Linked DNA regions of Homo sapiens: region 1 is linked to region 2. The links come from fine-mapping of genetic effects on gene expression. A gene starts in region 2. The other region holds a variant in brackets. All regions are shown on one strand. Distances are between the middles of the regions.

Region 1 (5,000 bases), 68 kb before region 2:
CTGCACCGCGGCACAGGCACACAGAATACAGTGAGTGGATGAAGCACCCTGTAGGCTATTGAGACCAAAGTCCTTACCTCTGCCTGCTTACATCTCTGCACTGCTTGAGACTGTCATTCTCCAATGTCTCCAGTGCCAGGGAAGGGAACAGGTTTTTGATAAATAATGACAAATGAATGTGTCATGAATATGCATGCACAGATAAAACTTTTACATTACTCTCTTGGGAGCAATGCAAAGTGGAAAGAGATGACATAGTTATTCAAGAGAAAGCAGCTATCAAAACTGTAAGGGAAAGAAAATTCCAAGTAGAAGTCAGGAGACATCTATTTTACTCTCTGTATATCCTCAGTGCCTTAATTGCTTTAAAAAAACCTATTTGTTGAATTTACTAATTCACTGTAAGAATGAATGAATAGGCCGGGCGCAGTGACTCATGCCTATAATCCCAGCACTTTGGGAGGCTGAGGAGGGCGGATCAGGAGGTCAGGAGTTTGAGATCTGTCTGGCCAACATAGTGACACCCAGTCTCCCTTAAAAATACAAAAAATTAGCCGGGCGCAGTGGCAGACACCTGTAATCCCAGCTACTCAGGAGGCTGAGGCAGGAGAATCATGTGAACCTGGGAGGTGGAGGTTGCAGTGAGCGGAGATGCCACCACTGCACTCCAGCCCGGGCAACAGTGCAAGACCCCGTCTGAAAATAAATAAATAAATAAATAAATAAATTTTTTTAAAAAAATGAATGAATAGCACTGACTTGGGATCGGCTATATGCCATCTCTGGGCAATGGAATACGAGAAAGTGTAAATGCGCTTTCCCTTGCCCCTCTTTGGCCCACCATAAGCAAGTCCACACTCAAGCAGCCACTGCTCTCTGGAACTAGGCTCCAGAATGACAAACACAAAGCCCACCTGAGCCCAATCTGAAGGCTAGAGACAAGTTCAGCTGACCCATGAATGAGAAAAATAAATGCTGTTTTAATAAGCTACCGTTGGCATGGTTCAAATGCAACATTATTCTGGCAAGTGAATAAAATAAGGAATTTTTTTTAAGGTGGAGGCACTTTGAAAAAAGACTCATAGTAGTAATTAAAAGTATTCATTCTGGCCAGGCGCGGTGGCTCACGCCTGTAATCCTAGCACTTTGGGAGGCCAAGGCGGGCGGATCACGAGGTCAGGAGATCGAGACCATCCTGGCTAACATGGTGAAACCCTATCTCTACTAAAAATACAAAACATTAGCCAGGCATGGTGGCACATGCCTGTAGTCCTGGCTACTCGGGAGGCTGAGGCAGGAGAATGGTGTGAACCCGGGAGGCGGAGCTTGCAATGAGCCGAGATTGCACCACTGCACTCCAGCCTGGGCGACAGAACGAGACTCCATCTCAAAAAAAAAAGTATTCAAGCATTCAAGCAGCCCTGGAAAGAAAACATGATTGGGCCATGTAATTAAATCACCATGATCTGAAGTCGGGTAGATACAGAGTAAGACTTACAGAAAACAAGTGTGACATAAAGCCACTTCCCTCCAATAATCATTCAGAGATGCCCTAACCATCAGCCCTTCCTGAAAGATGATGGAGTTGCTACTTCCTGGTGAAATGTTGTCCCTTGCCCCACAGTTATATAACAAATTTCTAAATTTGTACCCAGCAAGGACTAAGTTTCAATCCTTCTTGAGCAGGGCCCTTGTTTTGCGAGTTTCTTAGCACCCAGCACCAAAATAACCACTAATTTACCTCACAAATGGAAGAAGAAAAGGAAAATAGTCCAAACCTAACAAGTCAAAGAAGTACCACTATTTAAGCATTCTATGAAGGTAACAATTATGATAGCACAAATTTAGTGACAACTTGCAGGGCAAAAGGAGAAAAAGTACTACTACATTAAATGTACACCAATGTTAACAGGTATCCTAATTACAATATGAAAATGTGAGAAAAATACACCTCAGAATGAAGGAAATATTACAATTGTTCTTTTAAACCACAATCCTTTTCTTCCCCTTTAGAATACACTCCCCTTGTGGCATAAAGTCCAGCTTGAAGAACATCGCTTTAACTATAAAATCTATTTCTGGCCGGGCGCGGTGGCTCACGCCTGTAATCCCAGCACTTTGGGAGGCCGAGGCGGGCGGATCACGAGGTCAGGAGATCGAGACCATTCTGGCTAACACGGTGAAACCCCGTCTCTACTAAAAATACAAAAAATTAGCCGGGCGTGGTAGCGGGCGCCGGTAGTCCCAGCTACTCGGGAGGCTGAGGCAGGAGAATGGCGTGAACCCGGGAGGCGGAGCTTGCAGTGAGCCGAGATCGCGCCACTGCACTCCAGCCTGGGCGACAGAGCGAGACTCCGTCTCAAAAAAAAAAAAAAAAAAAAATCTATTTCTAGGATGTTCAGTAAAACACTTATAAATAGCAATAATATATTAACATCGTATTAAATACTATAAATTCTGACACAAACTAAGCCTGTAAGGACTATTTTCAATAACCCTTTCCAGCCTCTAAATCATACTCCCTGGAGAATATCACTCACCTTCTAAGCCACGACTATAAGCAAGTTTGTTACGTCAAATAGAAAACAATATTTAAATGGAAAACCTAAGCTGCATCCACTTGCTACCCAAGTTCTTCTGACATGCAGAAATCAATCTGAAAATATTTAAGAAAACATTAGCTTCAATCAATCCCCATCATCCTTGTTCTTCTGATACACGGATAATTC[G/T]TTGACACAACTGTATGACCTGCTTTATTTCACTTACTCATTTATAAAATAATATACCCATCCAATGACTACTTCTAGAGCCATATCATGTCAAGCATTGCTTTAGGACAAAGATATAGCAATAGTCAAGGACCTATACGCCCCTGACTACACTAAGGATACATATGTCCCTGCTTTCCAGGGTATCACATGATCCAGGTATCTCTCCCTAGTATAGTCAACAAGGAATAAATAAGATGCATTTCTTGGTTAGAACTGTTAAAGCTTACATCTGCCTCTTCCTAACCCCTTCTCAACCAACCCAGCTTAATTCTAGCACAGTATGCAAATCATGCCAAACATGACTCCATGCAGAGAACTATCAAAATGAGGCCACAGTGTACCAACCTTAACTGATTTTAAGGGTTCTTAGTTTCTAAGATTCTCATGCAGATCAGTATAATGTCCTAAAGGTAAATAAACCTTTCTTGCTACCTAAAGAAAATGTATCCCATATTCAGATTCGCAGCACAGAACCTGTATTCTGATAGTAGTAGTTTGAGATAACCAACTAGGTGTGGTGATTCCCAAACTTGGCTACATTTTAGAAATGCCTGGAAAACTTAAAAATCACATTGTTCAAGCTGCACTCCAGTTGGAGAACCACTGATGCAGAAAACTTGGGGGAAAATGAGCTGCTTTTCAATGATCTATGGATTAAAGGTACACTGACATTTCCTTCCACCATGAGCAGTGAGCTTCCTGAACACTGCTTCACTAAGAATTATTATGGACCTACTTGGTATTTAAGGGAAGGGTCAAACTTAGAGGAGAAAGCACAAACCTGAACATATAGAGGGCTAAATATTATCTCAAACTAAAATGCCAGAAAATAAAAATAATAAAGCTTTAAAATTTTATCCCAAAGTTTGTTAGAAATTGATGTTATCAAGAGTCAAATTCCCACTCCTCAATATCTGAAAAGTAAGAGACGGAGGGAAAATAACAACCCTCAGGCTGGCTTGTGAAGGGTTTTTGTTTGTTTAATACATCTGAAAAGAATGCATATACAAAGAATTGAGACATGAGAAAGCATTGGTTCAACACTAATGCATCTACAAGAATTAGGTTTGGGAAGGTGGGAAAGATTACCTCAACATTTTTAAAAATTGGAAACTGCAACCAAAATAAGCTGAAAAAATCCCTATTAACACTTAAGAAGAGTCTGCATTAAGAGTCTTTCCATGATTTTTATTAAACTAGAGAGCCTCACCTGGCTGCTCTAGGGTTCCTCATATGCAAAACAGAAATAAGGGGATTCCCCTGACTGGTCCCCATGTTGTTAAGTGTTCTCCCCACCCCCACCCTACCCCCAGCTTCTTAATGAAGCAGGCCTCCATCCTCCTAACTTGAGAGGATGTGAATCATTCCACAGATGTCTGTCTTCTAGCACCACCCCTCGTATTTCCTCTACATAACAGGTCTTCAGCTGCATTCTAGGAACACCATATACTACTGAGCTGCAAATCTATGCTAAGCATATAAGACAATGACTGAAAGGGAAAAAAATTTTTTTAATTACAAACTCAATTCATTTGGTGCATTTCAAAGGTGCAATACTTTTCTTCATTTATCAGTGAAAGAAGTTAGAAATTAACTTCCCAAAAAAATCAGCAAATGGCAAACAAATGTCCTTGAAAGTCACAGTCACATATAGTGCGTCCTAGAAAAGAGGAGGGGCAAGATGGGCTCCACCCACTTTCATGAGTTTCATCAAATACTGGATCTACTCAAGGGTGGAGAGAAAAGGCAACTTTCAAAAAGGAGTATGTTATTAAATGAGGCATTTACTATACTCCTTCCTAAGAGCACCAGATGGGGAACATGTTTTCTAAACTAGATCTAGGAAGTGGAATGTGGAATCAATCCGTCCTCCTCCCCTTAAGGGCTAACCACTGGTTAATGAATTAAAAAAACAAGACTAAAAAACAAACCCCACACACACTCCCCCCCAAAAAAAAGAGGAGGGAAAAAAACAAAACAAAACACTAAGATGTCCCAGATTACTCTCCAGAGTGGAACCAGGGAGCAGCTTCAACAATTCCAATTAGTCTGTTACAGAGTCATCCACAAGCATGCCTTGCTTTTAAACAACAAAAAAAAAAAAAAAAAAAACACACACACACAAAAATTTTTTTTTTGAAACAACAAAAAAAAATAGTACTAATCACTTTTCTGACAATACAATTACTCAAAATTAACTAGTACTGGGAGGGGGAAGGGGGGGGCCAT
Region 2 (5,520 bases):
GATTATCAAACCAGCTATAGCCGTGGGGGGCGGCGGGGCGGGAGGCAAATTAAATACCTGTAAAATGCCAGAAAAAAAGCCTTTGCTTCATTTGGGCTAGGGCCCCAGTTCAAAAGAGGAGTTATTTACAGGAAAACACATCCTATGTTAATTAACTTTAAAACAAGAGAGTTCAAATAACAGAAATGACTAAATTAATTCTCACATTAGGATACAGCCCCATGATGCAGTCACTTTTCAAGGATCATCATTTTCTTTTTTTTTTTTTTTTTTTTGAGACGGAGTCTTGCTCTGTTGCCCAGGCACAATCTCGGCTCACTGCAACCTCTGCCTCCCAGGTTCAAGCAATCCTCCTGCCTCAGCCTCCTGAGTAGCTGGGACTACGGCACGTGCCACCAGGCCCAGCTAATTTTTTTTTGTATTTTTAGTAGAAATGAGGTTTCACCATGTTAGCCAGGATGGTCTCGATCTCCTGACCTCATGATCCACCGCCCTTGCCTCGGCCTCCCAAAGTGCTGGGATTACAGGTGTGAGCCACCGTGCCCGGCCCATTGTTTTCTTTAATACTCTCTTCCCTCAAAGAACTAATCCCTTCCAGACATATAATACATAGCAGGAGAGCTGACATTTAAAATCCTTCCCACCTCAGAGAATCTCTCAAATCTGTTTCCTGAGCAACAATTGACAGAAGCCAACAATCACTAACGCTGACTAGCTGCCGTGCACCCAGCACCTAGTCATCCCTTCTCTAAAGGTTCCCTGACCCATTTCTTAGGAGACTTTAATTGATTCTAGACCCAGCACCTTGGATATTCTTGGGAGTACACCAATTCTTCTCACATTATCTTGGTTTTTGCTCAGTTAATAAGGTGTGCTCATCCCCCAAAGTAAGCTGTTACTAACCTAGGGTGGTGAATAGGGAAAAGCAGAATCACTTAGGGTGAGTTGGACTAAAATATTTCGTCCAAGAAAGGTTGGGTGAAACACTGTGGGAAAGCAAAATCTTGGGAACAACCTAAGTGACCATCAACAGGGAAATGACTGAAGTACCGTCAACCACTCAGTGGTGCCGCCACGTAAAAAATGAAGCAGGCTTATGAGTACTGGTAAGAAAGCTGTCCATATCACAACATGACTAAGGTCCCGATCGATGTGTAGTATGACCCCCGATCTGAGGAAATTAAAAATACATAAATACAGATACAAATAAATAAAACCTGATATATCCAAATAATAGATAGAAAGTTATCAAAGAAATTAATTGTATTTACTTCTGAAGGGCAGAAACAGTAGAAGGGGGAAACACTTTTCATTTTACATCTTTCTGCATTGTTTTCTAACTACACACATGTATTACTTTTATAACAACTCAAGAGGAAGAAAACTTCTCAGGCTTTCCCCTCCTGCCCAAAAACCTTTCTGAGTGAAAACCCCTAACCCACTTAGGAAAACACCCTTTTATTACTTCTTCTAGCTCCCAGCACCCAACGTCTTTACAACCCAGGTTTCTAGGAACAGACTGTCAGTGGGCCTTTTTCTTTCCTTTTTTTTTTTTTTGAGACAAGTCTCACTCTGTCGCTCAGGCTGGAGTGCAGTAGTGTGATCTCGGTTCACTGCAACCTTTCCTCCTTCTGGGTTCAAGCAATTCTCTGCCTCAGCCTCCCGAGTAACTGGGATTACAGGTGCCCACCACCATACCTGGCTAATTTTTATGTTTTTAGTAGAGATGGGGTTTCACCATGTTGACCAGGCTGGTCTCGAACTCCTGACTTCGGGTGATCCACCCGCTTCGGCCTCCCAAAGTGCTGGGATTACAGATGTGAGCCACCACGCCCAGCAGTCAGTGGGCCAATTCTTAAGGCTGGCTCTCAAAGATGAACCAGCACCACAATTTACCCGGCTTATAAATCCTGTCAGCTTCAGAAGACGACTTACCAAACACAAATTTATCCTCACCAGTTAATAACTCCTTTTCTTTGCTCAAAAACCCAGTGAGAAAAAATAACTCCAGGCCAGGCACAGTGGCTCATGCCTATACTTCTAGCACTTTGGAAGGCCGAGGCGGGTGGATCACCTGAGATCAGGAGTTCAAGACCAGGCTGGCCAACATGGTGAAACCGTCTCTATTAAAAATGCAAAACATTAGCCAGGCGTGGTGATGTGCGACTGTAATCCCAGTTACTCGAGTGGCTGAGGCAGGAGAATCGCTTGAACCCATGTGGCAGAGAAGGTTGCAGTGAGGCGACAACGCGGCACTGCAACTCCGGCCTGGGCGACAGAGCGAGACTCCGTCTCAAAAAAAAAAAAAAGAAAAAATAACTCCAGTGCACTGCGCCCTTACTTCCTATCTAACATTGTGCCGAACGTTATACACAGATCCTCCTCCGTATGATCCTTAGTTCAGGATCATAAACTCTTGATAAATTACTGCCCCAGGAACCTCCAGTGACATCAACCGCTGCTACCATTTGTGGAATTCTGCCGGCCAGACACCCCACACTGCATTCCCTCACAACTGATCCTCCCGATAGCCCATGGGGTAGGCACTGTTATTTCCATTCACAGATAAGCAAAGTGAGGCTCGGAGGGCGGGGACTTGCCCAAAGCCACAAGGATGAAAGGTAGTGCGATGACTCAACCGATAAAAATAATCCCGGTTGTGGTGGGGGGGAGCTGAGCCCGACTCCTCCCACTATGCTGCCGCGGCTCCGAAGGCCTAGCCCGAGTGCGGAAATGGGCTTCTAGGGTCCCAGGACGAGGTCCACCTCCAGAGCTGCAGTGAGGTCCAAGTCAGCCCGAGGAGCCCGCAGGTCCCACATTTCAGTCATTTCCCTACCCCAAAGGCAGGGACTCCCCGCTCCTGGGGCAGGCAGCCACTGTGGCCGCGAGCAAGCGTACTCGGGTTAGGAAGGAGAAGGAAGGGGACAGGGGGAACGTTCACCTACGCAGCTGCCACCTCGGAGGACGGGGGAGCGGGGGACGAGGAAAGATCAGGATAAGACCCTAACTCCCACAAATGACTCCAGGAAAGGGAGACCACCACTCCCCGAGCTTTGGAGCGCCGCGCGGGAACCGGAAGTCATGCCCCGCCCGGAAGTTAAGAGGAGGGGCATAGGTTGGAAGGGGTGGGCCGGGTCTCTCTAGCCTCCGCGGTACTACGCAGCTTCATGGTTTTAACTCTTGGTGGTCTTTTGACCGTCCTCAGTCCTTACCGTGCGGAGTTTTGGATACATTCTTAGCAGCTTTTTCGCTCCGGAGAAGTTCTTTATCTTTCTGAGCCGCAGTTTGCCCAACTGCAAAATGGAAAGAGATGAAGCAGGAATTAAGATACTCTAGGAGCTCGCCCACAGCTGATTCAGGGCCCCATTCTGAGGTTACACCCTTAAGCCTTTGCACCACTCAAAGGAAGGAAACCAAGAGAGAGGGGTGGCTGGCTGCTGTTTGGAGACAGTGGTCCTTGTATTGGCGCCCCGCGGAATCACTCCAGATGAGTCAGTGGATACAGTCTATAGGTCCCGCCTCATTGTACGCAAACAGCAGTGGGCATATGGCCGTGGGGGGTTGATACAGCCTGTCCGGGGTGGGACTCTGTGTGTATGGGAGGCTAAATCTCAGCAGGACTTTTCCAGTTGCTACCAGACTACGCACTGTCGCCTGATGGTTAAGAACTGAAGCTTTAGCCGTGCGCGGTGGCTCACGCCTGTAATCCCAGCACTTTAGGAGGCAGAGGCGTGTGGATCACCTGAGGTCACGAGTTCGAGACCAGCTTGACCAACAAGGTGAAACTCAGTCTTTACTAAAAATACAAAAATTAGCCGGGCGTGCTGGCAGGCGCCTATAGTCCCAGCTGCTCGGGAGACTGAGACAGGAGAATTGCTTGAACCCGGGAGGCGGAGGTTGCAGTGAGCCGAGATTGCGCCATTGCACTCCAGCCCGGACGAGGGAGCAAGACTCCATCTCAAAGATGAAGCTTTGAAGTCATACTGATCTGGTTTGCGTCTGATCACACAGGTTCAATGACACAGCCGGCTAGAGGAAGCAGAGATGCTAACCACTGCAGCCCCGATCTTAACCCTGAAGGGGAGGGATTGAGCTGTTAGAGAGAGGTACTCAGTTGACTTCTCCCTCTCTCTTTCCAGCTGGCATATCCGAATGGGCTGAGCTACCGGATTAAGAGGGACACCCCAAAGCCCCCATTGCTGGGTTATTGCTCCAGAGCCAATGTTCTTGGGGAAAGGAAGATATGCCCTTTGTCAACATTGCCACTGCTGGTCTGTAAACTCCTAGACGGCCAGCTGGTGGTTCACAAACCAGGACTCCTTGCTCTGGCCCTACCCCTACCTACCAGAATGACCGTGAACCCTTCCCCACTCACTCCTACAACCAGGTTTCCATCTCCTCTCTCAGCTTAGGTTTCCCTAACTGTAAAATAAAAGGGTTGGACTAGGTTAAGGACTTCCTGCTATTTCTCTCTCCCACACTCTAAGGTTCCTTAGGAATGCTTCAGAAAACAGCAGGGGTTGGGGCAAGGATGCCGCTTGAGTCCCAGAGCAACTCCAATTTCATAGGCACATAAATTTATGTGAAAGTATATACGTTTCGGCTTGTGTAAGATTATTTTATCATCCCAGGTAAAATTCAGCCTTTGTGCTTCATCTTTCCCCACCCTCCTGCTCACTCAGTTTGCTCCAAGAACACTGACCTTCTGGCTATTTTGCAAATCTGACAATCTGACAAGCTCATCTTCACTTCTTTTTTTTTTTTTTTTTTTTTTTTGAGACGGAGTTTCGCTCTTGTTGTCTAAGCTGGAGTGCAATGGTGTGATCTCGACTCACTGCAACCTCTGCCTCCCGGATTCAAGCGATTCTCCTGCCTCAGCCTCCCGAGTAACTGGGATTACAGGCACGAGCCACCACACCCGGCTAATTTTTTGTACTTTTAGTAGAGACGGGGTTTCGCCATATTGGCCAGGCTGGTCTCGAACTCCTGACCTCAGGTGATCCGCCCACCTCAGCCTCCCAAAGTGCTGGGATTACAGGTGTGAGCCACCACGCCCAGCCTTTTTTTGAGGCAGAGTCTCATTCTGTCACCCAGGCTGGAATGCAGTGGCATGATCTCAGCTCACTGCAACTTCCACCTCCTGGGTTGAAGTGATTCTCTTGCCTTAGCCTCCCAAGTAGTTCAGATTACAGACTTGCACCACCCTGTCCAGCTAATTTTTGTATTTTTAGTAGAGACAGGGTTTTGCCATGTTCCCCAGGCTGGTCTCGAACTCCTGACCTCAAGCGATCCACCCACCTCGGCTTCCCAAAGTGCTGGGATTACAGGCGTGAGCCATCGCACCCGGCCTCATCTTCACTTCTTTTGCTGATCTCTGCTTGCAGTGCTCTTTCCTGAGATCTGTTCACCCAGGTTCCAGTTCAACTGTAGCGTCTCCTTTTCTGCCCACCTCCTCTATCCCCCGACCCCGGGCACCCTTCCAATTCCTTTATAACCTGTTACTTTGTTTTTGTGATTACC

Evidence for each region.
Region 1: its variant is fine-mapped to the expression of LINC00339 in NK cells (Gilchrist 2021, PIP 0.95).

Annotation. Positions count from the first base shown.
Region 1 is chr1:22,091,677-22,096,676 of GRCh38, reverse strand. It overlaps CDC42 (cell division cycle 42), which reads right to left. Exons shown (of 6, transcript NM_001791.4): 6 at 1-5,000. Among named protein-coding and RNA genes, the nearest start is that of CDC42, 41 kb to the right of the region's middle. The variant G/T (reference allele first, on the strand shown) is at 2,730.
Region 2 is chr1:22,023,065-22,028,584 of GRCh38, reverse strand. LINC00339 (long intergenic non-protein coding RNA 339) reads right to left here and starts at 3,394. Exons shown (of 2, transcript NR_023918.2): 1 at 3,213-3,394. LINC01635 (long intergenic non-protein coding RNA 1635) reads left to right here and starts at 2,537. Exons shown (of 3, transcript NR_110692.1): 1 at 2,537-2,621; 2 at 3,619-3,779; 3 at 4,140-4,591. RefSeq lists enhancers at 2,415-2,709, 2,787-2,896, 2,508-3,109.